Linked DNA regions of Homo sapiens: region 1 is linked to region 2. The links come from fine-mapping of genetic effects on plasma protein levels. Region 2 holds a variant in brackets. A gene starts in the other region. All regions are shown on their reverse strands.

Region 1 (15,955 bases), not on the chromosome of region 2:
CTAAGACTGGAGCATTCTTTCTCCACCCCCTTTAGCTGTGAGCATCTCAGGAGCTAGGGCTGAAAATGGAAACAGGCCTGTGGGTCACTGTGGCCCAACCTCTCAGAACAGCAGGAGCCTGTGCACTCCACCTCGCCCCCGTTCTGCCCTACACTGTAGGGCACTAGTTCCTGCCTGAAAGGACTGGAAGAGCCTATGGCTCCTATGCGCCACTAGCTCTAGCTGAGTGCCCAGCAGAGGTAGAAAATATGATTTTCCTTCTCTTTCTTTCAGAGCAATCACTCACTAGACACATGAGGAAGACTAAGGGGCTGGAGGTGGGGTATGCAAAGAGAGGTACAGGGCCAGGCTTACTACAGTGTCTCCAAAAAGGCCAAAGATAGTGCATAAACAAAATGGAGCTGGAAGACAGAGTAATCAATACTTGCAGAAGCAGGGTCCTGGGAGAATGCTTGATGGGAAAAGTGGCACATGTAACATACTGTCCACACCAGCCCTGCACAAACCCTTGGCTCTGTACAGACCAGCCTCTTTGCTGTGCCCCAGACACCAGTTGGGCAGCTCCACTGCACTATCCACCCAGACCTCTCACAGGTTCAAGTCTCACTTGTCCTTGAAGGTCCTGCTCTGTCTCTTCATCCTGGGATAGACTTCAAGTGCCTTGTGTGGCCACAGTGACTTGCATTTGGCAACCTCTTCCTGCCTGTACTCCTTGTCTATACCACCTAAATACAGATGGCTGCTTAGGTGCTTTCTGTTTGTTAGTCTTGTTCCTCCATCCAAGCTGCAAGCTCTTTAGCAAGAACATCATATTCATGCCTCCCACCCTACCCACCCCAGCACAGAATTCTGCATATGGTAGGTGCACATGCTATATGGAGGATGAATGAGCAGATAAATGAATAAATAAGGAAAGAAAGCAGAGAAGAAGAAAAAGAGGGAGAGAAGGAGGGAGGGAATGAGAGAGGGAGGGAGGGAAGAAGAAAGGAAGGAGGGAAGGAAAGGAGAAAAGAGGGAAGGAAGGAAGGGAGAAAATAGAGAAGGAAGAAAGGAAGGAAAGAAGGAAGACTTCTCTGTTTTTTGCAAAGGCTAACAGGAACCTGCATGGCCAATCAATTTCCTTCTTTGCCCTCCTTTCCTAATTTTCCAGCATAAAGAGTATCTTTTAAATTTTTTCACTTTTTGAGCAAACTATGACATGAGATCATATATGTAAAATTTTCAGGCACTATAAAATAATCAATAATTTAAAAATATTTATTTGACACTTGCCATGTCCTCATGACAGTTCCTGCCCTTTGGAGGCTTACCGTCTGGCTGGGAGAGATCAGCAATATATGCAAGAAGCCTTCAGCCAGACTGACCTGGCATCTGGGAGCTCCAGATCTGGGGGGACACATGTCCAGGATCCCAGCATAATCTGGAGCAATTATTGGAGTGATTACATATGACAGTGACATTTATAAATATATAGCTTTATCTTAGTTTCCCCATCTGTAAAACAGGGATGCATATCTCATAGTGCTGTGAGCATTAAAATAATTAATATATCTAAAATGCTTGGCATAGGGATACAGTTAGTGCTCAGTAAATATTACCTATTATTGCTATTGCCAGCAGATAAAGGAAGAGCTTGGAATATTGCAACAGAGCTTTTAGGGTACAGGCCTGAAATGGCTTACATCAATCACTCAGCTCACATTCTATTGGCCATTGTTCTGTCACATGTCCTCACCAGTCTGAAGGAGAGGCTGGAAAATATAGCTGGGCCCTGCCCAAGAAGAAAAGGAAATGATTTTGTGACCTCACAGTGTTCTCTCTGCCATCATCCACAATGACTTCCATCTTGCCATACGCAATGGATACCTTTTTATCCTCATCTTACTCTATCTCTTGTGGACTTTCCAAATTACAGATCACAATCCTCCCTTCTGAGCTGCTCCCCTCTGTGAGGCCATTTTCCTGGCTTTCTTTCCTACTTTGACTGCTTCTGTTTCTTTTCTCCTCTATCCATCTTTTAAATGGCTGGGGTGAGCATGGGGGGATTGTTATAATGAGCTTGTGCTCTCTCTCTCTCTCACACTTCAATCTCCATGAAAACTTGCTTGTGTATAGCTCCATTATCAATTTTTTAAAATAATTTTTTAAATAGAAATGGGGTTTCACCATGTTGCCCAGGCTGGTCTCAAACTCTTGGGTTCAAGCGATCCACTCGCCTTGGCCTCCCAAAGTGCTGGGATTACAGGCATGAACCACCGTGCCTGGCCAATAGCTCTATTTTTAAACCTCACTGCTGAGTACTAGACTTATGTTCATTGCCCACAGGATGTCTTCATTCATATATTTCACTCAAAATGAACATTTCCCAAACTGAGTTCATAATTCCTTCCACCTCCCAGCAGTGACAACATATTGCTCTTCCCCAAATATCCCCACCTTCTCATGCTCACTCACCCAGTTGTTCGACCCAAATCTTAGAAGTTAATCTTGATTTTTTTTTTCTTTTCCTTCTCCTTCCTTAACTTCTATCTCAAATCCATCAGCAAGACCCATGGGCCCCAAGTTCAAAATATACCTGGAATTCACCTACTTCTCTTCTACTATCTCAGACCAAGCCATCGTTATCTTTTGCTTAGATCATGCAATAGCCTTCAAACTGGTTTCATTTCCAAAACCCACCCCCACTCCACCACCACATCCATTCACCACACAGCAGCCAGCGTGGTCTTTGCAAAACATAGATGGATCACATCACTTCCCTGCTTAAACTCCTTCAGCAGTTCTCAATTACACACAGGAGACAATTCACCTCTTTCAACATGGGCTCCAAGGCCTTGGGTGATCTCCCTCCTGTCTATCTCCCTGACACATCTCCTGCTGTCCTTCCCTTTGGGGATGCAGGCAGAAGATTGGCCAATGTATTCCACATGATGTCTCTAAAGAGCTTACACTCTAATTGGGACACAGGTCTGATTTAGAGACAGCATGTCAATAAACACCCATGCTGCAGCTGTTCAGGTACAAACTCATGTGCTACGGGTAGAAAGAAATGGGGGAGCTGAGGGTGTCTTGTAGAACAGCTAGAGTAGAAGGAACCAAGACTGTTGTGTACCACTGTGTACTCAGCACGTGGCATGATGGCTGGCATATGACAGGGGTCAATAAACACATATTGAGCAAATGAATGACATACACAAAAGATGAAGATGAATGAATGATACGATTCCTGCCCTACTGGAGCCCATAGCCAGGTGGGGGAGGCTAACTAATAAAGAAATGCATGATGGTAAGACATAGGATGGCAGGGTACATTCAACGTACTCTAAAGCGTACATGGGTAGGAACTATCAACTCAGCTTAGAGAAGGGTCACGGAAGACTTCAGACAAGGAAGTGACACTTAGCTGAGACTGAAAGGATAATTAGAGAGGAGTCCAGATGAGATGCAGGAGACAGGCCATGGTGCAGGTAGATGAAGCATGGGGCCCACTGCTGGTGGAGGCCACTAAAGAACCGGACATGACAGTGTGGAACCAAGCATCAAACTATGTGTCACAGAGCACAGGGCTCTATGAAAGGATAAGATAGAGAGCACTGGTTGGCACATAGTAGGTTGTCAGTGTATGTTGGCAGAAGGAATGCCTGCTGGATTACTAAAGGCAATTTAGAACAGATTTGAGTGGGTCTCGAAATGTAAAAACCACAGTCTAAATGGAAGGCAATATGTTAATATAGGTCATAATTAGTATTGAAGAGAAGATAGTCACCAATGATATGGATCGCTCAGGAGGAGCAGAAGCCAGGTGGATAAACAGGTATGTCAGCTGGGTGCAGTAGCTCACGCCTGTAATCTCAGCAATTTGGGAGGCTGAGGCAGGTGGATTGCTTGAGGCCAGGAGTTCGAGACCAGCCTGGCCAACATGCCAAAACCCCACCTCTACTAAAAATACAAAAATTAACCGGGCATGGTGGCGGGCACCTGTAATCCCAGCTACTTAGGAAGCTGAGGCAGGAGAATTGCTTGAACCTGGGAGGGAGAGGTTGCAGTAACCCAAGATTGTACCATTGCACTGCAGCCTGGGCGACAGAGTGAGACTCTGTCTCAAAAAAAAAAAAAAAAAAAAGAAAAAAAAATAGGTATGTTCAACACTCCAGCAGGCCATGCCTTCTGGCCCTGCCATGATGGGTGGGAGGAAGGAGAAGCAAGGGGAAAGACACCTCTTGACTTATTTGGCTGCTATGTGGAGGCTGCCTGGGCTCTGCCTGCCCTGGAGCCTGCTGCCCCTGCCTCCTGGTGGAGGGCTGGTCTTGAGAGGCGCTCCCAGGAATGCTGATCCCCAGGGAAGGTAGCTTTGCTTGTGGTCTGCCAAGGTGAAAGCCTGGGTCTCAAACATCTGACCCTCCTTGCTTCATCTTTGCCCAGATACTGCAAGGACAAAATCACTGGGACTTGGCAGTCTCCAGCAGTCTGAAAGGCTGGGGAATTCAAACGGAGTGAGTGTCTGCCTGGAAAATGTTTGTCCAGGTGGAACTGGTGACTGGGAACAAACACTCTGGGTAGTTTTGAAAGACAAAAAGACAGAGCAGGGCAGGCTTGGGGAATGTGGGAGGCATGGGACATCCCCCTTCTGCGCTCTGGAGAAGGACAAAGGATGTGAATTATCTTTGAGCTTCTCTTTTTTTAAAACCCTAACCCTCCCCATGCCACCCTGCATATTGCCTTCATGTCGCATCCTAGTGGTCATAACCATGGCAGGGGAGGTTGAAAGCATCAATAGCTAATAAAAATAGCTAAGCTTCTACTGAGCTAGCTATTGTTCTAAAGCCTTTACATTAATTGGCTCGTTCAGTCTTCTCAATAACTTAGAGGTAGGTTCTTTTTCCATTCCCATTCTACACATGGAGATCCGAGCTCAGAGAGATGAAGCAACTTGCTCAAGGTCACACAGACAGGAAGTCTCAGACCCAGGATTGGAAGTAGGCCATGTGGCTCCTGAAATCACGTGCTCTTGGGATGACTCTGAGGCAGAGAGTGGAGAAAGACTCCCAAGTCTGAGGAAACCAGTGAAGACTGTGGCCAAGAAGTAGCTGTTGAAGCTGTGTTCACTGACAGGTTCAGATAGCCCCTGATCTGGGTGCCGGGAGGATCCTGGCTCTGTCATGTGGGTAAAATGCACTTGGCAAACACCCTACACTTGCAAAACCTTTTTTTTTTCCTCATTGGTGCGGTGGGAAAATGATCACTAATCCACAGTAACATGAGGAATGAATGAAGGAGCACGTGCAAAGTGCCTGATGCATACGTAGTAGGTGCCAATAAATGTGCTCCTTCTCTCCTTGGTAAAGTTGGCTTCCGGCTAGGCTCAGTCATCCTTTCCACAAATATATGTGGAGAGAACAGGCTAGAGCAACGAGGTTGGGAGTGGGGAAATGACCCAGGGTGATCAGAGGACAAAAATAGATTTTAATTAACCCGTAAGAACCTAGTGCAGGACAAATGAGAGTTAGCTTCAAAGCAATAGCCTTAGGTGGGTGCACTGTTGTTCCAGAGATGCTGATGCTACACCAAACACTGACACCAGCCCTTAGATTCTCCCCCCAGGACAGGCCTGGTGTGATTCCCATGTTGGGGGTGCTAGGGCAGGAGGCGGCCTTTTAAGGAAACTGAGTCTCAGGGACAGGAACCACCTGGCAAAATCACACAGCTACTCAGGGCAAGAGCAGAAGCTGGGGCTTTGATTTCTCCGCTGGAAGTCTCTCCCACACCGGCGGGCCTCTCATCCTTCCTTAGCCTCACATGCTACATTGGAGATAGACTATTCTGCTCTCATCTGAGGCCATGGTTTATTCAAGACTGGCTCAGAATGGCTTTGGACTATTTGGACTATTTTCTAAAATAACTAAACCCATCTCAGGAGGAGGAAGCTGGGGATGTCCAAGGGAATGTGCCCATGCATCTGCCTGGCAGTGGCCGGGCTTGGAGTAGAAGCTGAGTGCACCATGATCACTGCCAAGTGCCGGCATCAAGCATTTGGTTTCTACACCAGCTTCACGCAGAGGACAAGGGCCAGCCATTTTCTGGTGGAAGAAAAGGTCTGAGGCGAATATTCCTTTTTTTTTTTTTTTTTTTTGAGATGGACTTTTGCTTTTGTTGCCCAGGCTGGAGTGCAATGGCACGATCCCGCCTCACCGCAACCTCTGCCTCTCTGGTTCAAGCGACTCTCCTGCCTCAGCCTTCCGCGTAGCTGGGATTACGGGCATGCACCACCATGCCCAGTTAATTTTGTGTTTTTAGTACAGACGGGGTTTCATCATGTTGGTCAGGCTGGTCTCAAACTCCCAACCTCAGGTGATCTGCCCGCTTCGGCCTCCCAAAGTGTTGGGATCACAGGCGTGAGCCACTGCGCCCGGCCGCAAATATTCTTGTATTGGGAGCCTTGGGCTTTTTAGAGTCACCTCAGAGGTTAGTGGGGTGCTCTACGGGAGCCTGTTTAAGAGTCTGGAGTCCTTAGTCTAGGTTTGCGAAAGATCTTCCAGAAGCGAGATCTATTCAATTCTGAAGAAATAACTCAGGAGGTCTTTCAGAAACTCCTTCCCGCTGGACCTCACGGGACTCTCCTGGACTCGGTGGGTTGAGGTTTGATCCTCTTTGCAGGCCAGGGGATGGATTAGGTGACCCCAGAGGAGCCCTGCTGACACCTGGATTCCAGCTGCTTTCGTGGCCATGTGGGGGTGGCTGTGCGTGCCCCGCCACTGCGTGCGTGGGTGTCTGTGTGTGTTATCGGTGGGGGGCGCGTGAGTGTGGCCGCGGGTGGGTGTGTCCGATGTGCCCCGGCTTGGGACCGCGCCCGCTGCGCCCACTTGTGGCTCCTGGGAGCCGCCAGGGGGAACCGCGCCTTCACCGCCTCTGCCGAGGACGCCGCCAGATAGGAGGCTGATGACATGAGGGCTCCGTCTCCCGAGTGATGGCAGCGCGCGCTGCTTCGCCGCCTCCGCCGCTCAGCCCCGGACTCCTTACGTCAGGGTAGCGGGGTCCCCCCTCCGCGCGGGAGCCAGCGAACAGCGAGAGAGCACAGCAGAGCGCGCCGCGGAGCCGGGGCGCCCTCACTGCGCTAGGAGCCCCACTAAACCCAGCGGAGCGGAGCCTGGCGGGAGGCAGCGCCGCGGAGCCAGCGCCGGACGCCGCAAGCAGACTCCCCGGCCAGCGCAAGCACTCCCTGGCCGGCGCCGGACCCTCGGGGCGCCGGATTCGTCTTGTGTGCCCCACGTCATGCGCGCGGGCGTCCGCGGCTCTCCCGACCAGCCCCAGCGCGGTGGGCCCAGGCTCAGAGGTCCCGGCGCCTCTCGCTGAAGTAGTTGGGTAGCCGGGGCTGGGGGTCGCCACGTCGGGGGCGCGGCCAGGACCCGCGGAGCCGGTCCCCGAGCGCGGGGAGCGGGGCCGCCCGCGCCGCCCCACCATTACCTCCCCGGGCGGCAAGGAGGAGCTGGTGGCGGTCGCCTCCCGGCTGTGGCAGCGGCGGCGGCGTGCCTGCCTGGCGGCCGTCGGCGTACTCTTGGCCATGGCGCTCGGGCTGCTCATCGCCGTGCCGCTGCTGCTGCAGGCGGCGCCCCGAGGCGCCGCGCACTATGAGATGATGGGCACCTGCCGCATGATCTGCGACCCTTACACTGCCGCGCCCGGCGGGGAGCCCCCGGGTGCAAAGGCGCAGCCACCCGGACCCAGCACCGCCGCCCTGGAAGTCATGCAGGACCTCAGCGCCAACCCTCCTCCTCCTTTCATCCAGGGACCCAAGGGCGACCCGGGGCGACCGGGCAAGCCAGGGCCGCGGGGGCCCCCTGGAGAGCCGGGCCCGCCTGGACCCAGGGGCCCTCCGGGAGAGAAGGGCGACTCGGGGCGGCCCGGGCTGCCAGGGCTGCAACTGACGGCGGGCACGGCCAGCGGCGTCGGGGTGGTGGGCGGCGGGGCCGGGGTAGGTGGCGATTCCGAGGGTGAAGTGACCAGTGCGCTGAGCGCCACCTTCAGCGGCCCCAAGATCGCCTTCTATGTGGGTCTCAAGAGCCCCCACGAAGGCTATGAGGTGCTGAAGTTCGATGACGTGGTCACCAACCTCGGCAATCACTATGACCCCACCACGGGCAAGTTCAGCTGCCAGGTACGCGGCATCTACTTCTTCACCTACCACATCCTCATGCGCGGCGGCGACGGCACCAGCATGTGGGCGGACCTCTGCAAGAACGGGCAGGTCAGTGACCCCTACACTCACCGGCCCCCGTAAACCCTCGCCCGCGCCCTGAACCTCCCAGGGAACCAGCCTCCTTTCTCTCCACCCGCGGGCTACCCTGCGAGCCCCGGGAATGAACGCGCCTCGGTGCCACAGTATCTCCGCTTCCCGATGCGCCGAGGCCGCGCTCACCGGGACGTAGAGCCAAATGTTGGGCCTTGAGAGCCCAGAGACCCCCATACCTAAACTACACTCCTTGGCCACTTGCGTCCCTGCCTGCCTCTCCGTGGGCTTCTCGGAAACCTCAGTTCTTTAGTTCTCTCCAGGTCGCCCCCTTGCCCTGCAGCCTCCTTTCCTCTTGGCCCTGGCCCCTGGCTCCCACCCTTCCACTCTGGGTCAGTGTTCATGAAGCTTCCCCTCTCCCTATTTCCCAGACTCGTCGGCGCGAGGAGGAGGGGGGACCTGGAAGGAGTTGACTAAGTTGGAGAGAGAACATGGAGCTGGGGTGGGAGTGTGGACCCTGAAGCAGCAGGCGGGAGGCCCGTGAGTGGCGCGCCTGGTGTGGGCTGAGCAAAGGCGCGGGAAGAGGTGCCCCGGCTCACCTGCTCCCACCGCTTGTCCCCAGGTCCGGGCCAGCGCCATTGCACAGGACGCCGACCAGAACTACGACTACGCCAGTAACAGCGTGGTGCTGCACTTGGATTCAGGGGACGAAGTGTATGTGAAGCTGGATGGCGGGAAGGCTCACGGAGGCAATAATAACAAGTACAGCACGTTCTCGGGCTTTCTTCTGTACCCGGATTAGGGGCGCGGGGGGTGCGAGGCGGGGTGGCTGCAGGCCGCCCGGTCTCCGCCCGGGCGCGGCTCCTTGGCAAAGGCCACTCTCGATTCATAACACTTCCTGACATCTCCTTTGGAAAAGACAAATCCCTGCGTCCTCCCTGCCCCGCTCCTGGCCTCAGTGCGTCTGCGACCCACCACGCTCAGGGCTGTGCTCCTGGTCTCCATCCCCATCCCGGCAAGGGAGGAAGGGACGCCCGAGCCCTTGAGGCGGCGGCACAGACTTTGCAAACCTGATTAGACTGGACAGGCAGGGCCGGGAGCCTGCCCTCCTCAGACAGCCTCCTCCCAGTGCCTAGAAGCGGAGGGCTCCGGGCCCTGGCCAGGGAGGTAGGCCAGAGGGAGCGCGGGCTTCCTGGGGCGTCCTTCTTTGTGACCCGAAATACTTGTGCAGATTTCCCTGTCCATCAGCCAAAACCCCACCCACAGCAGAATTCCAGCAAACAGAAAATTCACCTCTCCACACCGCATTCCCTCCTGACTCAGACTCACCGCGATGCATTAAATTATGTTTTTAGACTATGCGTTCTGTTGTCTGTATGTCGACACATCCTGGACCAGGGCTCCAGATGTCCGCCTTGGCATAAAGACCTTACCTGGGCCCAGGATAGGCCCATCTATGACCTGCTCCCCAGCCGCTGCTATGTCCCTGCCACCAGAAGTTGCCGAAAAGACATGGGGTAAATGGGAGCTGCATCCCACCCTTCCCAGAAGCTCTCCCCAGGCTGCAGCCCTGAGCTGGAGAGGCCGGAGGTGGGGTTGGGAGGAGGGGAGGAGGCGGGGAAAGGCATCAGGGAGAGTTAGAGGAAAGCAGGAGAGGAATGATTGGGTCTCCAGTCTTGGGCAACTTGGGCAACTTAGTCCTCCCGGAGTTGTGGGTGGAGGTCAGAGGGGAGGGGCTTCTGGGGAAGGAAGGGGAAGAGAAGGCATCTATGGGAAATGGGAGGCGTGAGTGACACTTGCCGGGGAGGGATCTGTAGGATGTTTGGCTCCTAAAAGGAAGTGCAGAAGTCCCTAGCAGACACACACCCGCTCGAGCGGATGGTTCACTAAGCACAGGCCTGTTTACTCACAGCCGCCAGGGCCACCGCTCTCCGGAGAGCTGGTAAACTGAGGCAATTCCGCGGATCATCCAGCTTGCTGAACTTCCTCAGGGCTGTGTGTTGAGGTGGACACCATTCCTTGGGGAGGGACGCCTCTTTCCTGCGGGCTTCCCTTCCCTTATGCATGCGATTTGGGGTGCCTGCTCTGAACCTGAGTGTGTGTGTTTGGTGTCCCATCAGCATTCTACACACACACAAGTTAGGAAAACACCCCGCATGGTTTTGATTTTTTTCTTTTTACTTTTTTTTTGTTGTCAGATCACTGAGTTACAACAAAGTTATGTACAAAATAACCAGTCAGCTCCCAGCAACCTGTTAGTGCTTACTGAGGTCACTTTTACGGGTTGTGTGAAAAGAAATGTGTGAGTATACACAAAAAGGCAACCCCAGGGTGTGTGTATCTGTGTAAAGCTGGAGATTGTGTGTGTGTGTGTGTATCTCCTATGTGGATGTGATGTTGTGATTGTCCTCACGTAATCCACATTACACATGTACACACACTTATATTCATAAGTCCATGTCAGTGTGGTGTGTGACAATGTTCATGCTGCATTTCTGGCCCCAAATTGCTTTGTGCTCGACTTTAGTTCCTGGAGAATGCTGAAAGCTGTGATTCCCATTTAAAAGACAACTATACCCCCTGCCTTGAGTCCTGTTGCTGTCGCTATTCCTTTTTGCTCTTATTTTGTTTGAATAATGTTTTATTGTCATTCTTTTCAATATGAGCAATGATTATGTCTGCTTTGAGTCCAGGGATAAAGTACTCAAAGAGAATGGGAGGAAACACATATATACATACTGCCATCCCCTCCCCCAGTTCCAGACCTAGTAATCCCAACCCCAATTCCCCACCCCACCCCACTCCTGCTGATTGTGGATCCCTAACCCAGCTGAGCCCAGGAACTGGGAAGGGCAGAGTCAGGCCCATCTACAGTTGCATAGGTATCAATTTCTGATGCTTTGTTGATTGTGTCATCCAGAAATGTGATTAAAACCAAATGTCTGAGACCCAAATGAAGTCTAATTGCTATGGATCTGCAATCCCCAGCGGGCACCTAATCCTTTTTGACTTATTCCTCCCCTTCCTCCGATGAGATGGAGCTTAGACACAAAGCCCTTGGTTTAAATTTCAAAAATTAAAATTGACATGCAGTGGTGGCTTTCCTGGGAGCAGGAGGAATTTCTAAGGAGGTGCCTGAACCCAGCTTTATCCTCTGCATTAAGAAGCAATTTGTACTTCTAACAAAACCCCTGTCACTCCCCTTTGGCAGAAGGGCAGTGGAGATGCCTTGCCTGGGTCTGACTGCTCACAATACTTAGACAAATTTGAATCTGAGATTCCTCCATCTGTATTCCCTGGTGCAGCCGGGGCTTCTTGCAATTCTAATGCCCGGGCTGCCGGAGGTGCTGCCAGAGGTGTCAGCTGCTAAGAGGATGATGGATTGATGAGGCGGCGGATGGGAGGTACGGCGTGGCAGGAGCTAGCAAGCTCAGGAACAATCTCTCTGCGTATGCACACCTTCCAGGTCCCAGGCAGGCCCCTCATGGCCCACCGAGGTCCATGACACCATCATCTGTCCAGAGGACTCTATTGGAAGGGGGCAGGGTGGAGTGGGGAGGCAGGCTTCCCACCATTGTCACCGTCATGGTGCCATCAGTCTTGGGGTGCATGTGGAATGCAAGAAACCCTTTGCGCCAGACACTTACCCTTGTCTCCAGTTGAGTAGGGACTTACTATCAATTATAATCATAACATATTAGTTTAATTTCCTAATTGCTTTTGGGTCCCTTTTCTAATTACGTTCTTGGTTTGGGATTATCATACTGGCATCATCCCAGAAGTTGGAGAGATATTATTCTGTCCATTTGGGAGGCAGAGAAATTGGGGCTTAGAGAGGTCCATGACTTGCCCAAGTGCACAAAGCTTATAAGAGTCTGAGCTGCAACTTGAACTCAGACCTACAGATTTTGCCCCTGTTTGCCTGCACAGAAGGGGCAGGTCCAACTCCCAGGGTTCTCAGGCCTTTGAGAGGAGAGCACATAGGTGGGGCACACTTCCCACCCCTTCCTCTGATATAGGACATGGCAGCATCCTCCAGAGGGTCAGATGAGAACAGCCAGCTTCTTTGGCCCAGGCAGCCCCCCCAGAGAGCACCCCAGACAGAGGTTCCCACTCCTGAGGAATTTGGCTGAAAAGCCTAGCCAGTGCTGATGGCCCATTGGGGCCTTACGTCACCAACTCCAAATGCTCCATTGGGACCTGTCTGTCTTGACCAGCAACTCCCCTCCCCTCCAGTCTCCTCTCCTCAGGGCCTGCTGACCACTTTCTCTTAGAACAGCTCTCCCTTTTCTCCTCTAGGTAGCACTGAGGAGGGGGCCATCCTGCAAGTGTAGTTTAGTGAAGTGAGCATTGGCTACCTCTGATTGGTGGGAGAGCACTTCCCCATTCTCAAAGCCAGCATCTCTGCGACTATCATTCAGGACTGCCTAAGTGCATGAGATACACACCTGGCCCCAGAAATCCTGATAGAAGTTATGCCTTCTGCTACCTTTCTCTCCTATCTGTGTGAGCAGATGGCTCTTTTGGGCACCCCAGACAAAACATCCAGGTCCCCCTCTGCATCAGGCTGTGATGCCACCAGAGGGGCCACTGCACAGACTCGTTGCTCCAGACTTCTCTGATCATACAGTTCTACTGGTTAAACAGTTTTTGAGCACTCACAACCAATATATTTACTTAACTTACAAATAATTTCTGTATACCATTGTCAGTCTACACTTTTACATTGTTCCATCTTTTTGTATTTACGTTCATCAAAGGACCTGCACATTCAAGTCAGTATCTATGTTCCAGCTGGCTAACCAAGTTTGGAAACCAGTTTCTTTTCACTGGAGCAAAAAGAGACTAGGGTTAATTCAAGGGCCGTTTCCCTTCAGCTTGCCATTTCCCAGAATCTTAGGCCTGAAGAGATATTCTTTTCTGAGTCACAGGTGAGCCTGAGTACTTTAATTCTTGGAGTGCACAGTTTCAGTTTACGTTTTAAGAATTTATAATGCATGATTCCTCTTACCTTTTTCAGACTGAAAATAAATAAAGCTGAAGTTCCCAGGTTTTCTTCTTACACCTGATTTTGGAGACTGATGTTGGCATTGGTGCCAACTCAGTATCAGGATGGGCCCGGCGGGGCGGGGTCTCTCTGGGGCCCCTCTGAGTATCAGGGGGGACAGACTCGGCAGATGGAAAAGAGGAATTTTGGGGGAATGTTTTGGTCTCTTGTTATTGCTATATTCGAATTCCCCTCCATGAAGGAGCATAGAGCATAGCAGCAGTTGCAGCACAAAATATGAGAAGTAGTTTAAAGCATTTTATCCTACTAATTTCAAAAATACACACCAGTACATTGAATAGTGTTATGAGCCACATGGGCCTGTCATCTGCTCAATACTTACCTCTCCTGGCAAAGCATAAAAAGCTGAATTTTGATTTTTAAAGACCTCATGATGTGTTAGGAATTGGTGATAGGGCACATTGTGTCCTCCCAACACCCCTATGAAGTCGGTCTAACTATTAGTCCCATTTTACAGATGAGGAAACTGAGATTCAGAGAGGTGAAGTGACTTCCCCAAAGTAAGGGCCGGGACTGGTGCCAAGGTCTGTGTGACCCCAGAGCCCAGGCCCTTTAGGGAATATGGGTGGAGCAGGGAGGCGAGACCTTAAAAGACAAACCACAATGTGGGTGCGTTTCTAGAAACAGGATTCCCCATCAAGCACTCTGTGGGTGCAGCCAGTGCCCAAGGGTTTTTCTGGAGGCCTTGAAAGGAAGTGCCCCCCTTTCCTAACATTGCAATCCATTGGTCCCTGGCTTCTTGCTCTCCCTTTCTTACTGTTCTGTGTGCCAGTCATGCTCTTTCCTCTACCTGGAACCCTCTTCTCCAGGTTAGCTCTCACTCTTTCAGGGCTCAGCTGGCACATGATTTCCAGTAGTCCCCCCACAGCCCTGGTGCTCCATGGCTTCTCTTCTCCCCACCCTGGGGGCCAGAGAACCCTGCTGAGAGCCTCTCTGCATGGCAGTTATGACACTGTTGTAATCCTGTGTCAGGTGGTCTGTCTTCCCCATGGACTGTAGACTTCACAAGGGCGCTACCTGGTGTCTGTGTGGGCCACCAGAGAATATTCTCTGCCCCCAGCACTTCTAATGGTGCCTGGCACACAGTAGGTGCTCAATAAATAGTTTCAGAATGGATGGATAGAGGGATGGAGGCATCCTGGGGGATCTTGAGAAGGTAAATCTTGAAAACATTTTGACTTCACAATGGGATCATAGGGGGTTGTCCCAGCAAGCTGAATCACTGCTTTCTAACCAATGAGTCTCCATCTATCCCCCACTGTCACCCCTAGCCCCGAGTTTTTAAGGTTGGGGTGAAAGGGGGCAGATATATGTAAAGGTGCATTTATTACAATCTTTGGGTCCCTGGTTACATCTTTAGGAATGACCAAAACCTTCTAGCTGACACAAGCTTATGACCACTGCCATACTGCAGCTTCTGGGCTGCTTTAGCCTCCCCCTTGGGGCCTTGGGGATGACCCTCTGTATTCTGGAGCTTCTTGGGCAGTAGCCTCATTTCCAGTAGGGTCCCTTGGTTGGTGCTTTTGCTGTGAGGATTCTTTCATTTTCTTGAAACGAAAAACATCTTTTGAAAAATTGTTGACATAATATGCAGTAGCAAAAAATCCAAACAACACAGAGAAATATAAAAGAGCAAAAATTCCCTCTCCCTTACTGCAATGTCCTTCCCCAGAGACAATTTGTTAACAGCTTGACTTGTATTCTTTCAGACTTTTAGAATGCCCATATGTGTGGCTCTGAACACGCAGAGTGTAAAATTCTAAACACTGCTCCACACCTGGGTCCCCCTTCATGCTTACTCTCGGACAACTCAGCGGTGCACATAGAGCCCCTGTTTCTTTTGACCGAGGTGCATTCATTGTACTGTTGATGATGACCTTTAATAGGAGGAACAAATCTTCCACCACTGGGTCTGTGAGCTGCTTCCAGCATTCCCTGGTCTAGTGGAGGAAGAGTCTGCTGATAGCTTCCTCTTTCACTTATGTGTTCTGCCTTCATGTGGGAAAGTACTACTTTATTTCCAAATCAGTATAAACAAGGTCTTTATCCAATGTACAAATGATTCTGCCCTTGATTTCTACCTTGTGGTATATTTCCTATACTCAGTAGCCCCTCTTCTAGAACTGAGTAAATTAAAGAAAGATTGACTCCAGCCGGTCCAGTGTTGCCTCTGTTGGCACAGGGAGAAGGAAGGGCACTCCTTGGGGTTGTATGTGTGTGGTGTGTGTGGGGTGGCTCCAGTTAGGGAGGAGCCCAGTATGCTTGGAGAATGAGGTATCTACCCGCCACCCCACACTACACACCTGGCTGCTGCCTATGTTGAAGCCTTGTTAAAGATGCAATTATATCCGAGGGAGGGTGGAGGCAGCCAGACGCAGGCACCCTGACCATCCCCAGGATTTCCTAGGAAGAGTGCTACCCTTGATTTGGCTCTTGGGTGACTGGGATTGGTAGAGCTGTGCTTCTTGATGGTGTGTGTCTGCTTGCCCAGGAACTCAGCTCCCACTTGGCTCCTCAGCTGTGTCCCCAGGTCCCCAGGCCTGAGTTTTGCAGAATGGCTCTGTTTCCCTCTTCTTTTCTCTCTTTACTTCCAGTTCCTGTGTCCGGGGCAGGGCTCTGACGCCTCTTCCCTGCTGCACTGTGCCTGATGGTGGGGGAAGGAG
Region 2 (14,452 bases):
CATTCTCCATGTCAGTAACTCGACCAGTATTAAAATGGGGTCTTTTGGACATACTCAAACACTTCCAGTGCTCATTTGTTTAGGAATTATAATAAAAATATTCAGCAATCATATGGTTTGGATATTAAAACAACAATAATATTTATGAAATGCTTTGCAGTGCAGAAAATACTTTTAAATATGTAAGTCATGAGTCTAAATTCACATTTGATCAGGTTTCATAACTTGGATAAATACTACTTCACTTCTGCTTTTAAAATGGTTAAAAATATTCTTTATTAAATAATTAAATCAATAAGATCATAGGGGATCAAATAAATGTAAACAACTGGGTCCTGCTCTGTCATCCAGGCTGGAATGCAGTGGCATGATCTCGGCTCACTGCAGCTTTGGCCTCTTAGCCTCAAGTTATCCTCCTACCTCAGCGTCCTGAGTAGCTGGGATTACAGACGTGTGCCACCACATCCCGCTAATTTTTTAAATTATTTGTAGAGACAAGGGTCTCACTCTATTGCCCAGGCTGGTCTCAAACTCGTGGGCTCAAGCAATCCTCCCGCCTCAGCCTCCCAAAGTACTGGGATTATAGGTAGGAGCCACCGCACCTAGCCTAAATACAACTATAAAGGAGGTTTTTAAACATTTATAAGCAATACTTTTTGTTATTTAAGTAATGGCGGTAAGTTTTATTAAGTATATTTTTAATTCAGTCCTTTTATTAAAATCTTTTATTCTATTTCCCCAAAATGAGTCTGAATAACTGCAATTAAACTTTGTTAAGTCTTAATATGAAATAAGTAATCTTCTGACAGGTTGATCTAAACTACCACTTTTCATTATTTATGCATTTCACAGATTGTTGAAATTCTGATATGCAGCATAAAATTCCCTGTATTCTTGGCCTCAGTGTCTTCACCTCTAAAGTGGCAAGGTTCTGATAGATGGATAGAAGAAAGCATTTTCTTCCTCTCTTGTCTGTTCCACTGAGGCTCATAATATAGTATCCACTTGTCGTTCAGTCCCTCACTCATTTCCACAAATAAAAGAGGTGCGTCTCCTACCAGAGAAACTGGAGGAAGTCTCCTTTCTATCCTTACGAAGTGAGAATGCTCAGTCACGAGTCAGGATTTGTCTTCTAGAGGCAGATCAGGAAGCCCTGCCATCTCATGGTTCAAGAGACATGAGACACAAGTCACCCTGCAGCTGGTTACGCTCATGACTGTTTCACAAACTTGTCTTCTGCCAAACACCCCAAAGCCCATACTGGGGAGGTAAGGGCTATGAAGGAAGCCTGACTCTGACAATAGTTGAGCTGTATTCTCCATTCTAGTTTTACCAGTAAGAAAACTAATACATAATCTGCATAATGTTTGACTTCTGTGTCTACTTCTCATTTGATTCTGAACTGGGATAAGGAAAGGTTACAATTTCTCAGTGCCTCAAACTGTAACATGTTTATGGTCCCCTTCTGGCACTAACAGTTTACTAATCTGTTGAATTAACTTAATTCTAAACTTGTTGTGAGGGATAAAATTATATTCATTTAAGGTAGAGAATCCTAGCACATACTGGACATTTAATATACAAAAATATTAAAAAACAAAAACTCACCCTCACATCCTTGGTATGGGGTCCATCTCAAATTTTTCTGACAAATCACAGTCGTAGGCTCATCTGTAGTGGGTTTGTAGCCAGGATGACAGCGGTACCTTAACACAGTCCCAACAACATACACATCCTCTTTTGTCGGCCTAGGATATGTTTCCCAGGAAGCATGTGGAATGTCTGGTAAATTA[A/G]TACAACTATCTACTCATGAAAGAAGAAGAAGAAGAACAAAAGGACGCTATTACTAGGGCTGCCACAGCAGTCAATAAGCCTGTCCTATCAAAGGGGGTCATACGTTCATTCAGCCTGGAACCAGCCTGCAAGGCCTGATGTATCAACCACACCAGAAAACACACATGGACATTCGCTCAAATGTGCACACCTCCAGAGAGGCTCTTCACTAAGGGCACTCCCAAGTGGTTTCCATGTGCTGTGCCAAGTATAATAATTTTAATTCTCATTCCTCTTCTTTACATTTCAGAGATTTTAGTTTCTGAACTGAAGCATGGCAGGAAAACTGTCACAAACAAATCTAACTATGTTTACTGATTGATTGGGGAAAATAAACAGGAGCCGTTCCCCTCATCCAGATGATACCAGGAATGACTTGGCAAGAAAAAAACCAAGCTCCAAACATTTTTTGAGCCTGGGCCTTGGATCTTGTCCTCTTCTCTCTTTCCCAATGCTACTGATTCATATGATATGAAAATATAATGCAAACATCTACCACGTTGGATGATTATTGAAATGGAATATAAAAGTTCTTTTTTAACAGCATTATTCAGATTAAAGTCACAACAAATAAATTCACCCATTTAGAATGTGCAATTCAATGGTTTTTAGTATATACAGAGTTGTGCAACCATCACCATTAACTAATTTCAGAATATTTTTATCAACCCAAGAAGAAACCTCATATTCATTATCAGTCACTCCCTATTTCCACCTCCCCCTAGGTCCTGACAACCACTAATCTATTTTTTTCTTTATGGATTTGCCTAATCTGAGCATTTTAAATAAATGGAATCACACAATACATGTACTTTTTGTGACTGGCTTATTTCAGTTAGCATAATATTTTCAAGGTTCATCCATGTTGTAGCATACATTAGTACTTTTTATTTTTCATTTTTATTGCCAAATGATATAATCTATTTTATGGATAAACCACTTTTTGTTTATTCATTATTCATTTGATGGGCATTTGGGTTGTTTGGCTATTATGAATAATGCTGCTATGAATCTTCATGTAAAATTTTTGTGTGTGGACATATGTTTTCATTTATCTTGGGTAGATACCCAGGAGGGTAATTAGAGTCATATGGTAACTCCATGGTTAAACTTCAGCAGGACTGCAAAAACTCTTTTCCAAAATGGTTGCACCAATTTACATTCCTATTAGCAGTGTATGAGAGTTCTAATTTTTCCACATCCTCACCAACATTTGTTATTGTCTATCTTTTTTATTACAGCCATTCTGCTGGATGTGAAGTGGTATCTGATTGTTACTAGAAGGCTATCCTTACAAGAAATGCTAAAGGAAATTGTTCAGACTGAAAGCAATTGACACCAGACGGTAATTTGAATCCACACAGTAAAACAATGAGCATCAGCAGAGGTCATTATGTCAGTAATTTGAACCACAGTATAATATATATTACTACTCCTTCCTTCTCTTAGCTGATTTAAACAGCAATTGCATAAAACAATATGTATATAATTGCATTATTAAGCCTATAACATACAGAAATGCAATATATTTGACAATAACATCACAAGAAAGGTAGGAGGGAACAAAGCTGTATTATAGTACAGAAATGACACCAGATGGTAACTTGAATCTACAGGAAGAAATAAAGAGCGCCAGAAATGAAGAATAAGAAGATTAACATAATAAACTCTCTAAATATATACTTGCCCTCCTTTCTTCTCTCAGCTACTATAAAAGACATGAAACATGAAATTATATAAAACAATAATTATAAAAATTTATTGTGCAGTTTGTAATATATGTAAGTGCAAAATATGTTGTTGGATTCTTGGTTGAGGTTTTTATCTTTCTGCACTTTGAATGTGTCATCTAGCTGCTTTCTAGCCTCCATTCTTTCTGATAAGGAATCAGATGTTAATCTTACTGGGGTTACATTGTACATGATGCGTTGCTCTTCTCTTGCTGCTTTCAAGATTTTCTCTTCATTCTTGGTTTTCAACATTTTGATTATAATGTCTCAAGGTCTAGACCTTTTTGCAATATCCTACTTGAGTTCAACAAGCTTCTTGGATATGTAGATTAATGTGTTGTTTTGTTCTTTTGTTTGGGTTTTTTTTTTTTTTGGTCAAATTTGTGATATTTTCAGCCATTTTTCCTTTGTATAGGTTTTTATCTCCTTTCTCTTTCTCTCATCTTTCTGGGACTCTCATTATACATATGTTGGTACACTTAATGGTGTCCCACATTTCTCTGATGCCATTTATTTTTCCTCATTCTTTTCATCTCTGTGCTTCAAATTGCATAATCTCAATTTATCTTCAAATTCACTGATTCTTTTTCCAACTCAAATCTACTGTTGAGTTCCTCTTTTGAATTTTTCATTTTACTTACTGTGTTTTTCAACTCTAGAATTTCCATTTCTTTTTAAAATAATTTCTATCTTTATCAATATTTTCTATTTGATAAAACTGTCATAATACATTTACTTAATTCTTTAAATATTGTTTCCTTTAGTTCTTGGGACATATTTATAATAGCTGCTTTGTGATTCTTTGAACTTTCCTGCTAAGTCCATTCTCTGGGCTCCCTCAAAAACAGTTTCTATTGTTGGCTTTTTCCCTTTACATGGGTCACTCTTTCCTGTTTCTTTGCACATCTGACAATTTTTTTTTTGAAAACAGAACATGTTAGATAATACATTGCAGCAACTTTGGATATTGATTCTCCCTTACCACCTTTGGGATCTGTTGTTGTTTCCTCATTTTCTTGTTTGTTTAGTGACATAATTGGACTAGTTCAGTTAAGTCTGTTTCCTTCAAAGTGTGCAACATCTAACAGCATGCCTCAGACAGCACAGACTTGGGCATGTACACAGTCTTTTTAACTGCCAGAGATAACTGTGGTTTTCTCTTTGACTGTCTCTTTCTCATTGAGACTTTGGGTGGTCTACCTCTGTTGGTATTACATACAACCATTGGCCTCCAGCAATCTTTATCTGATTGTTCTACTTTTTTCAGCAACTCCCTGGGGCATAATATGCTTCACAGTCTAATCCAATTAAAGTTCCTTGAAAGGGGCAGAGTGTTTACAGTCTTTGAAGCTTGCTCCAAATCTGCCCTGGAAGAATGTCTGTCCTATAGATCAGGAGCTGGGGGAAATTAGAAAACTCATTCTTTCCCAGGCACTGCACTAGAGTTCTTCTTATGGTGTAGGAGCTGTGAGAAGAGAAAAGGGGGAAGTAGGAACTGGCACTGCCACCCAGCTGCGCCCACCACCAAGTACACATATTCCACAGCGCAGAGCTGGGGAGAATAATAACTGCCAATATTCATAGCTGTCAACCTACCCATAATAGTTCTTCCATTCTAGGAAGCTGGGGAAGATGGGAGATGCCACTTGGCTGCTGAGCCAACTGGAATAGTTCTCGTGCAACATAGAGCCATGAAAAAGGGGGGACTGACTTCTTACCAGCTGCCCCACTTAGATCCTCCCCATATAATCGGAGTTGGGGGTGAAGGAACAGACACTGATGCATGTTTGCTGGCACCGATTCAATATTCGACTTCCACAGCATGGATCTTTGAAAAATACTGTCATGTAATTTTCACTGGCTGCCAAATCCACCCCAAATAACTTTTTTACCCCAGGGAGCTGGAGAAGATGGGAATTGCCACTTGTGGGATGAGCCCACAGAAAACATCCTCCCGCAAGGTAGAGCTGTTGCAGCCCCTAGTTCTAATGCAATGTCCTCCCACTGTTCCTATCAAGTCTCCATATTTTTGCTGAATAAATGCTTCTCGGTTTGTTGTAATCCCTTTGATCACTCTCCAGAGACTTTGAATGGTTTTCTTTGCTAATTTTGACCAGCTTGGTGGATACCTCTTCAGGAGAGAGGTTTCCCCAAACTCCTCCACCACTGCTCCAGAAATCCCCAGAAGTTCTTGACATTTCGTGAGGGCAAAACTTAGAGCACAAGGCATCAGTGGCTTCCTTCTCTTACCAGTTGTATAACCTTGAGCAAGTCTTTTAACCTCTGTGAACAGTTTCTCATCTGTAACATAAGGATAATCATAGTGCCCACAATTGTTGGGAGGATTTGTTGAGTTAATCCTTGTTATGCACCTAGTCTAGTGCCAAGTTATCATTATTACTATTGTCATTATTTTTAATAATCCACGAGTTTATAACTTCAGAGTGTTGGAATCATAACCAGTTCACACAATACTTTTGTACAAGTTATAAAAGGCATTTTTCCTCAGGACAATTTATTATTTGTCTTTCAAAGTAATTATAATAATATAATGATTTTGTTAGAATAAGACAATTTTCTATCAAATTCCATAAAATTATTGAAATAAATATACAAATCCATAGTATCTACAATGTTAACACCTCCCTTTAAGGTTGGAATGTGCACAGTCTTGTGGTATGTGGCAGTTTTGTGTGACAATATATGACCTTGCAGAGTGCACTAAAATCATTCTTCTTTCCAACAAGAAAAAAATAAAGGAAATTATTGATCTAGATGTAAATTTTTACTGTAATTCATAGTAGGCCTATGCATGCAAGTATACCCGTATTAACAGTACGGGGTACCTTTAGATGCCAAACATTGAAATTCTGTCACAGTCCATACTTACTGGGCTCACAAGCAGGAGGAGAAGGATTCCATTTGCTATCAGCATCACAATGAATTACACTGCTGCCTCTGAGAACAAAACCTTTTTGGCACTTAAACACAATAGTGTCTTTGTAATTATAGATGGGTCCAAATCCAGAGACCATTTCCCCATGTGAAACATCTGGCTTGCGACAGGTGATTTCTAAAGAATCATGAGAAAAGACAAGTGGATTTTAAAAGATAGATGGTAATAAGGATATTACTGCCACTGCTAATCCAGTTACAAGTGCAACACAAATGCCTGTTGAATGTGCATGTCAAGTAGATACAAGGGAAACATTTTAAAGTGAATACACATACACAAACGCATACATATATATCTGTATATATAATATATATATATATGTAATCCTTTCAGTACTAGTTTTTATTGGTGGAGAAGTTGAAGAAGTTATCCACAATTACCTCATAGAAAGACCAATGTAATGGAAACTCATTTTACTGAGGCTTTTAAAAGCTGAAATTATTTATATTATGTTAATGATACTTATTATATATTTTATATATTCTATAATATAGTCTTATAGAATATATAACACTATACCAATAGTATTATATATTATATATTTTTATATTTGATATAATATATATTTATATATACACATATGTATGTGTGTGTATATATATAAAATATATAATTTCAGCTTTTAAAATGAGTTTTCATTACATTGGTCCTTCTTCGAGATGACTGTGGATAGCTCCTCCAACTTCCCTACCAATAAAAATCAGTCATACATAACCCAGCAGAAACATATTTCCAAGGCCCCCAAAACTTTCAGTATAATGGCCTAATTTCCTAGATGATTTTGGTTATGGGTCCGTGGCCCATGGTAATTACATAGTGCAGAGGCAGCCCAGGGGATCAGAGACCCATGCCCCGACAAGCAGAAAACAAGCCGCCCCCTATCTCACACCCCTCACCCACATCCTGGCAGTCATCCAGTCCTGGCAATTCTGCTACTTTAATTCCTCTACAATCCCTTAACTTCTGTCCAGCCCCACTGCCATGCTACCGCTGAAGCCACCTTCAGTTTTTGGCTGGAGGGTTGCACAGGTGCTGTCTTAGTCTGTTCCTGCTGCTATAACAAAATACTTTCACTAGTTTATAAATTATGGAAATTTCTTTCTCACAGTTCTGGAGGCTGGGAAGCTCAAGATCTAGCCACCATCAGATTCAATGTCTGCTTGCTCTCCCCTTTCAAGATGGTGCCTTCTTGCTGCGTCCTCACATGGGGGAAGGGATGAAAGCTCTGTCCTCACAAGACAGAAGGGCAAAAGAGACTAGCGCTCTCCCTTCAACCTCTTTTATAAGGGCACTAATCCCATTCATGAGGGTGGATCCCTCATGACTTAATCACTTCCCCAAAAGTTCCACCTGTTAAAACGATCACATTGGGTCTTAGGTTTTATCATGAGTTTGGAGATGCACATTCAAGCCATAGCAGGTGACTGTCAGTTAAGTTTTGTCCCACTTCAGGTTGTTGTCCCACAGCCAGAGTTATCTTTCTAAAATGCAGCACATTTATTCCCCTTGTTAAAGCCTTTCAAAGTCTCCCCTCCATGATTGTTCTGAATGCCTGAGACTGAAACACAAGGCCCTTCATAACCTGGCCCCTGCCCACTTTTCTGCCCTCAGCTATTGCCGCTTTCACTTGTTGCAGATCTAACTCCAGGCATTTTGCACTGTTGGCAGTATCCTGCTCTTTTGTGCCCCTCGTCTGATTGTGTCCTGTGGTGGGTTAGTAAGCAATACTGTGTAAACTTAGTAATATAAAGTAAGATTCCTTAGACTAGCACACTAACTAACATATCTTTTGACTCAATTATCACTTGCTTTGTCCTGTTGCCCTTCTGGCACTCAGGTTTTGCTTGCCCTACAGGCATATGTGTTTCATCTTATAGGTGCAAATTATATTTTCATTTCCGCTTCTTGAACAGACCAAGGCTACATTCCCCAGTCCTCTGAGGCTACTCTCTAGTTTGAGACAAAAGGCTGTAATGGAAAGTGATATGTGGTTGCTTCCAGGCCAAAGCTCTTAGCCAGGACACAATTGGCCTTTCTCTCTTCGTCTACTGAAGAGACTGTGAAGGCACATTTTGAAATGGAGGTGCCATAAGATCAAAGCAACCTGGCTTGCTGAGCTAGTTGCTAAGCTAACACAGACTACGGCTGCCCTGGAGAGTCTCCTGGACATGGAACAAACTCAGTGTAAATGAGAATAAACTTTTACTTCACCAAACCAGTGAGATGTTGTTGCTGTTTGTTCCCATATACTGTTAGCTCCCAGTTCACCACTCCCATTTTTATGGCTTTTATATTCTAAACAAACATGCAATAAGTATCAGGTGGCCAAATAAATGATTGCATCAGAGCGATAGTTAGTTTATCTTTGAATTTTCCATTTGCCCCCCAATAAATTTACCTTTCTTTCTCTTTTAAACAAAAGAGAGCAAACATTTTGATGCAGAATTCATCATTATGACTTACTTTCACAGGTAGGAGGGCTTGGTCTCCAAACACCTATTGTTTCATTCTCCACAGTGCAAGAAATGGAGGCATGGCCCAAGAGTGAGAAGCGGGGGTCACAGCTGTAGGTGACAGAAAAGCCGTATGCGTAGAAATTTTCTTCACCGCTGTGCCTTCCATTCCTGATGTCTGGAGGAGGCTTACACTTGACAACTGAGGTAAGTGAGTGAAGAGAAAGAAATACTCAGCGAAGGCATCATGATAAATCTAAAATTCATGCAAATTCTAATGGAAGGTACACATACCTGTAAAGATGCACAGGGACTTTATTACCTAACAGAGTTTAAATTGATAGTCAAGTCAGAAGAGTCTTTACTTACTTTCACATTGTGGGAGAGGATGACTCCAGCCAACTCCTCTATCTTGGACTTCACAACGACTAGTGGTTGAGCCAATTAAGAAAAATCTGAATAAGATAGATCAAAGATTTTAATGGAATTCCTCCTACCCTAAATTAAATTAAAGAGGTCTGAGCAAATAGAATTGTTACTCAATATTAAAATAAGGAAATCATATGTTCTTGGATATCATTTCCCATTAAGCACTCCATTCAGTAAAATTTCATTACTGCAATGAGATGCGTGTGTTTTTTCCTTTGGACCCTCATTCCTTAATCTGTTACTGAGCATCTACTAGGGATCAGGAATGCAGTTCATCCAGAGCTCAAGCACAACAATAAAAGGCTGGCTTCAGCGTGTTCTGTGGTTGTCTCTGGGTGAGAGTACCAGCTAGATTACTGAGTCCACAATCTCCCCATCTTTGGCTTGAAGCTTCCTCTGACTTCCAGGTGGGTGTCTTATTCCCATACATCATTAGCTTTCAGTTCACCACTTCCATTTTTACGGCTCTTGATATGTCCTACTCTTTCCTCAGTTCGTCTTCCTGCCCTCTATCTTATGCTAACAGAAAAAAACAAAAGATATGAATGATTACAAATTGTAGCATCATCAAGGATATTGATAATCATCAATGATATCAAATTGTAGCATCATCAAGGAATAAACTTACAATGTGATAGAACACTAAAGCAAATGTCACCTTCAGCAATCTAAGAGCCTGTGGAATTTATTGAATAATAACTTCAAGAAAATATATCTCAACTACAACTACAATTAAGTATTTCTTTACTTTAAAATTTCTTTAAAATGTAGTTTTTCCAACCTAGCCCAGAGACTAAGTGCAAAATATTGTTTCTGGTTGTTTCAATGGGAACACCTTAGTGTTTCAACAGCATCTTAGTTCTGATTCTTTTCACTTTCCCTTATGGAAGCCATACACAATAAGGAAAACAGAGGATAAAAATGAGAAAATCAACAAAAATGAAACAAACGGAAAAGATAAGAGAAAACTAATAGATATAGGTAACAAGCAAAAGAGAATCAACATAGGCTTAATTGGATAACCTAAAGAAGGAATCCAAGTAGAACAAAATAGCTTTTTAAAAATTTGTTTCAGGCCAGGTGTGGTGGCTTACTCCTGTAATACCAGTACTTTGGGACGCTGAGGCAGGTGAATTCTTTGAGACCAGGAGTTCAAGACCAGCCTGGCCAATATGACAAAACCCCATCTCTATTAAAAATACAAAAATCAGCTGGGCATGGTGCTGCTCTCCTGTAGTCCCAGCTACTTGAGAGGCTGAGGTGGGAGGATTGCTTGAGCCCAGGAAGTTGAGGCTGCAGTGAGCTATGATCGTGCCACTGCACTCCAGCCTGGGCAAAGGGAGTGAGACCTTGACTCAAAAAATATATATATTTCAAGTAAATGTTACTAAAATAAAACAATACGTCAATCTACATATTAAAATTGCACATCACATAGTAGCAAAAAATTAAACCAAGTGATTTCTACCAAAACAACTAAGAGTAAAAGTATTAGGTTTCAAAGATAAAGAATAATAATTTAGATAGTCAAACAAAGATCAAGCCATATGAGAAGAAATTTCAGATCAGTAGTATTCACTAGCAAAAGATAGTGCAGCAGTACCTATAAGACATCCAAGAAAAGAAAGGATGAGCCAAGGACTATATCAAGCCCCATTATCTTCTAGGTATCAATGCCTCAGATATATTATCTGAACCTGCAAGAACTCAAAGAATAATTTTCACTTGGGACTTTTTTTTGGAAACCACCATAGGACAAACTACAGCCAACCAAGAGATGACAATGGCAACTTTAGCCAAAATAAACAAAAATGGTAGCAAACATTGTACATGCAGATCTAAGAAAAAACAAATGTGATTTTAAGTGTGACTGAAGGAAATATAAATGTTATATGCTCAGACAGCACTGAAATAGTATAACTAAGAAAAAATAGAGACAGGGAAGAGAGGGTAAAATAAATTCCCTTATTGCCTGATCATTTGCAAAGTTGAGAATGAAAGCAACCATAGACACATATGAATATTTCACATTAATGTTAAATACAAAATAAACACTAAGATAATACAAATGATACAAATTTACTGGTAGGGAAGATAGAAGGGGTGAAGGAGGGGTAAGAATACAAGATAAGTTTATTGTTGTTTATAACAAGGAACCAATTTAAACTGTCTAAAGATAAAGAGGAATAATGATATTATATAAATTTAAATGTATATAGGTCACCACTAGAAACAAATTTTGAACCTTCCTAAATACCACCATATATTTTTAATAGAAAATAAATATACACATACATATATAACAAAATATGAAATAATATGATAAAACCAAGTCTATAAGTATCACTCACATCAATAAATGTAAACTCCTAATGAAAGAAAAACAGCTTTTAATTGGAGAAAATTCAGCTCTGTTATATACAGGAGACAAACCTAAAAGTGTTTCAGACAGATTAAAAATAAAAGACAGCATAAAATTATACCAAGCAAATTCAAAAGAAAACCAAAGATAATAATTTTAATATCCCATAAGTTGGACATCAGAACCAAGATTATTAAATGACACACAATGGGTACTTTATATGTTAAAGATTTTGATTTTCAGTGAAGAGCTATGAATCTTTATGTAGCAAAATATGTATGTAGCAGCAATTTTAATAAAACAGAAGTATATGAGACAAGAAAAATAATCAAAATATGCTAATTATCATTAAATTATTTTATAATGGTTAAAATAATTATAAAATTATTAATTTACTTTAACTCCTATCTTCATGCTTAAGGTATATAAAGACAAGCATAATAAAATATTCAAAACAACTTATCAAGAAAGTAGATCTGACTGAGAACAGTGGCTCATGCCTGTAATCTCAGCAGTTTGGAAGACCGGGGCAAGAGAATCCATTGAGCCCAGGTGTTCTAGACAAGCATGAGCAACATAACAAGACCTCATCTCTACAAAAGTTTGAACTTTAGCCAGGCATCATGGCACATGCCTGTAGGCCTAGCTACTCAGAAGGCTGAGGCAAGAGGATTGCTTGAGCCAGGGCAGTCCAGGCTACAGTAAGCCAAGACTGCACCACTGCACTCCAGCCTGTGTGATAGAGGGAGAACTTGTCTCAAAAAAAGAAAGTAAATCTGATGTGTATATAGCAAACTCTATATACTACTAATAAAGAAAATCCTTCATTCCAGTGCCTGTTGAAATATTAATGAAAGTTGATTGTATATCATGATGCGCCATAAAACAACTGTAAATTTTAAAACATAAAAATAAGTAACATTCTTGGTTAATCTAGAAGTCTTTTTATTTCTTTTATTTTCTGTTTTTTAAATTTTTTTATTCTTTAGAGATGGGTTTCGCTATGTTGCTCAGGCTGGTCTTGAACTCCTGGGCTCAGGTGATCTTCCCACCTCAACCTCTCAAAGTGTTGGAATTACAGGCGTGAGCCACTGCACCTGGCCCAGTCAGTTTGGAAGTCTTCAGTGGAAGAATGCTTCTACTGGGGGACGCAGCAAGAGTTCCAAAAATTAGAGTTGCCGGATTTAGCAAATACAAATACAGGGTGCCTAGTTAAATGTGAATTTCATGTAAACAATGAACACTTTTTTTAGTTTAAGTGTGATCCAAATGTTGCATGGAACATACACTAAAATTATTTGTTGTTTACCCGAAAATCAAATTTAACTGGGCATCCTGTATTTTACCTGAAAACCCTAAATTAAGCTTGGAGGTTGAGACCTGTCAACTCTGGACCCTCATGCAAGTGAAGGTAAGGCAAAGAAGGAGTCCACTTTGATGGTTGGTGTGACTAATCCTGATAATGAAGGGAAAAATTAGATTGCTTCTGCACAGTGATGGTAAAGATGAGTATGTCTGGAATGCAGGGCACCCAGACATACTGGGTGCACCCCCTTACACTCCAATGCCCTATAATTAAAATCAACAAAAAACTATAATAACCCAAATCAGGCAGGACTGCTGATGGCCCAGACCATTCAAGAATAAAAGTTTAGGTGACCCCATTGGGCAAGGAACCAACGACAGATGAAGTGCTTGCTGAGGGCAAAGAGAATATGGAATAAGTAACAGAAACATCGTTATAAATATCTGCTACAACCACATGACCAGTTGCATAAACAAGGACCATAAAAGTTGTGAATATTTCTTTCTTATTTTAATATAAATGGACATTACATTAATTGTGTTTCTTTTTACCCCTTTCCTTCCCCTACTGTATAAGATGTGTTTGTAGTGGCTTACCTTACATCTCAATATTTAAGTTATAGAATATCAAAGGGGAGATATGACTCAGCTCAAAGGGAATTCTCTTTTAGGAAAAGAATTTCCATGTTTTTGGGTGTATGAGGGATAGTTGCATTATGTAAAATGTGAGTATTACTTTGCTATTGACTTTATTTGGAAATTAAGCTAAGTATGGTTAAAACTAGTGTATACAAATATCACATTTGACAAGGAGTGAGCTGTGGTAGATTTATGTTGTGTCAACTTAGCTAAGCTGTAATTATGTTTCCCAGAATTATCTTCCATACATAATGCCAAGTTAGTATGGCCCATAAAAGACGGTAGATGTGAATTAGTAGAGCCATACTCCATATGCTAGAAAGGTCAGGGCAGAGCACAGGATGTGACTGCAGTTCACAAGCACTGTTGTTTCTCTGTTCTATCACTTTGTTAGTAGAGGGCTCAACCAGGCCACAGCAGAGCCAGCTCCTGCAGGATCTCCTCCTTCATGTACCCTGGCTTCTGATCCAAGTACATTAGCACTGTGACGGACAACTTCTACAGGACATACCCATTTTTGAAGTTGAAGGCTAAGGGGCAGTGAAAGAACAAGATGAATTCCAGTTTACAATGGTGGGCTTTACTCGCTCATCTTTGCAGGTTCCAGTTTGTCCTTGAAGCACTCAGTTCATGTCTATCTTCCCTTCCTGAGTCCCTGCCCTGCTTACTTCAGGCCACAGCAACAGACATTGAAGGAACAGCCTCCTGTAAACACCATTTAACTATCTCCCACACCTATGTCAAG

Direction of the effects. Positions count from the first base shown, and alleles are read on the strand shown. Strength reflects both the effect of a copy and how common the allele is.
For the plasma level of the protein whose gene starts at base 7,077 in region 1, G is the low allele of the variant in region 2 and A is the other (strong association).

What was found. PIP is the posterior inclusion probability: the model's chance that the variant is causal. The UK Biobank Pharma Proteomics Project read protein levels with antibody pairs (Olink). The fine-mapping took linkage between variants from a reference panel, not from the people measured, so its PIPs are less certain.
Region 1: C1QL2 starts here. The variant in region 2 is fine-mapped to the plasma level of the C1QL2 protein (UK Biobank, PIP 0.92).

What each region holds. Positions count from the first base shown.
Region 1 is chr2:119,149,873-119,165,827 of GRCh38, reverse strand. It overlaps C1QL2 (complement C1q like 2), which reads left to right and starts at 7,077. Exons shown (of 2, transcript NM_182528.4): 1 at 7,077-8,242; 2 at 8,847-9,585. The coding sequence starts at 7,559. The coding sequence ends at 9,026. RefSeq lists an enhancer at 7,899-8,709.
Region 2 is chr1:207,118,897-207,133,348 of GRCh38, reverse strand. It overlaps C4BPA (complement component 4 binding protein alpha), which reads right to left. Exons shown (of 12, transcript NM_000715.4): 5 at 9,342-9,427; 6 at 8,983-9,174; 7 at 6,454-6,636; 8 at 1,609-1,803. LOC107985251 (a long non-coding RNA gene) reads left to right here. Exons shown (of 3, transcript XR_007066838.1): 3 at 3,075-6,339. Among named protein-coding and RNA genes, the nearest start is that of C4BPA, 22 kb to the right of the region's middle. The variant A/G (reference allele first, on the strand shown) is at 1,794.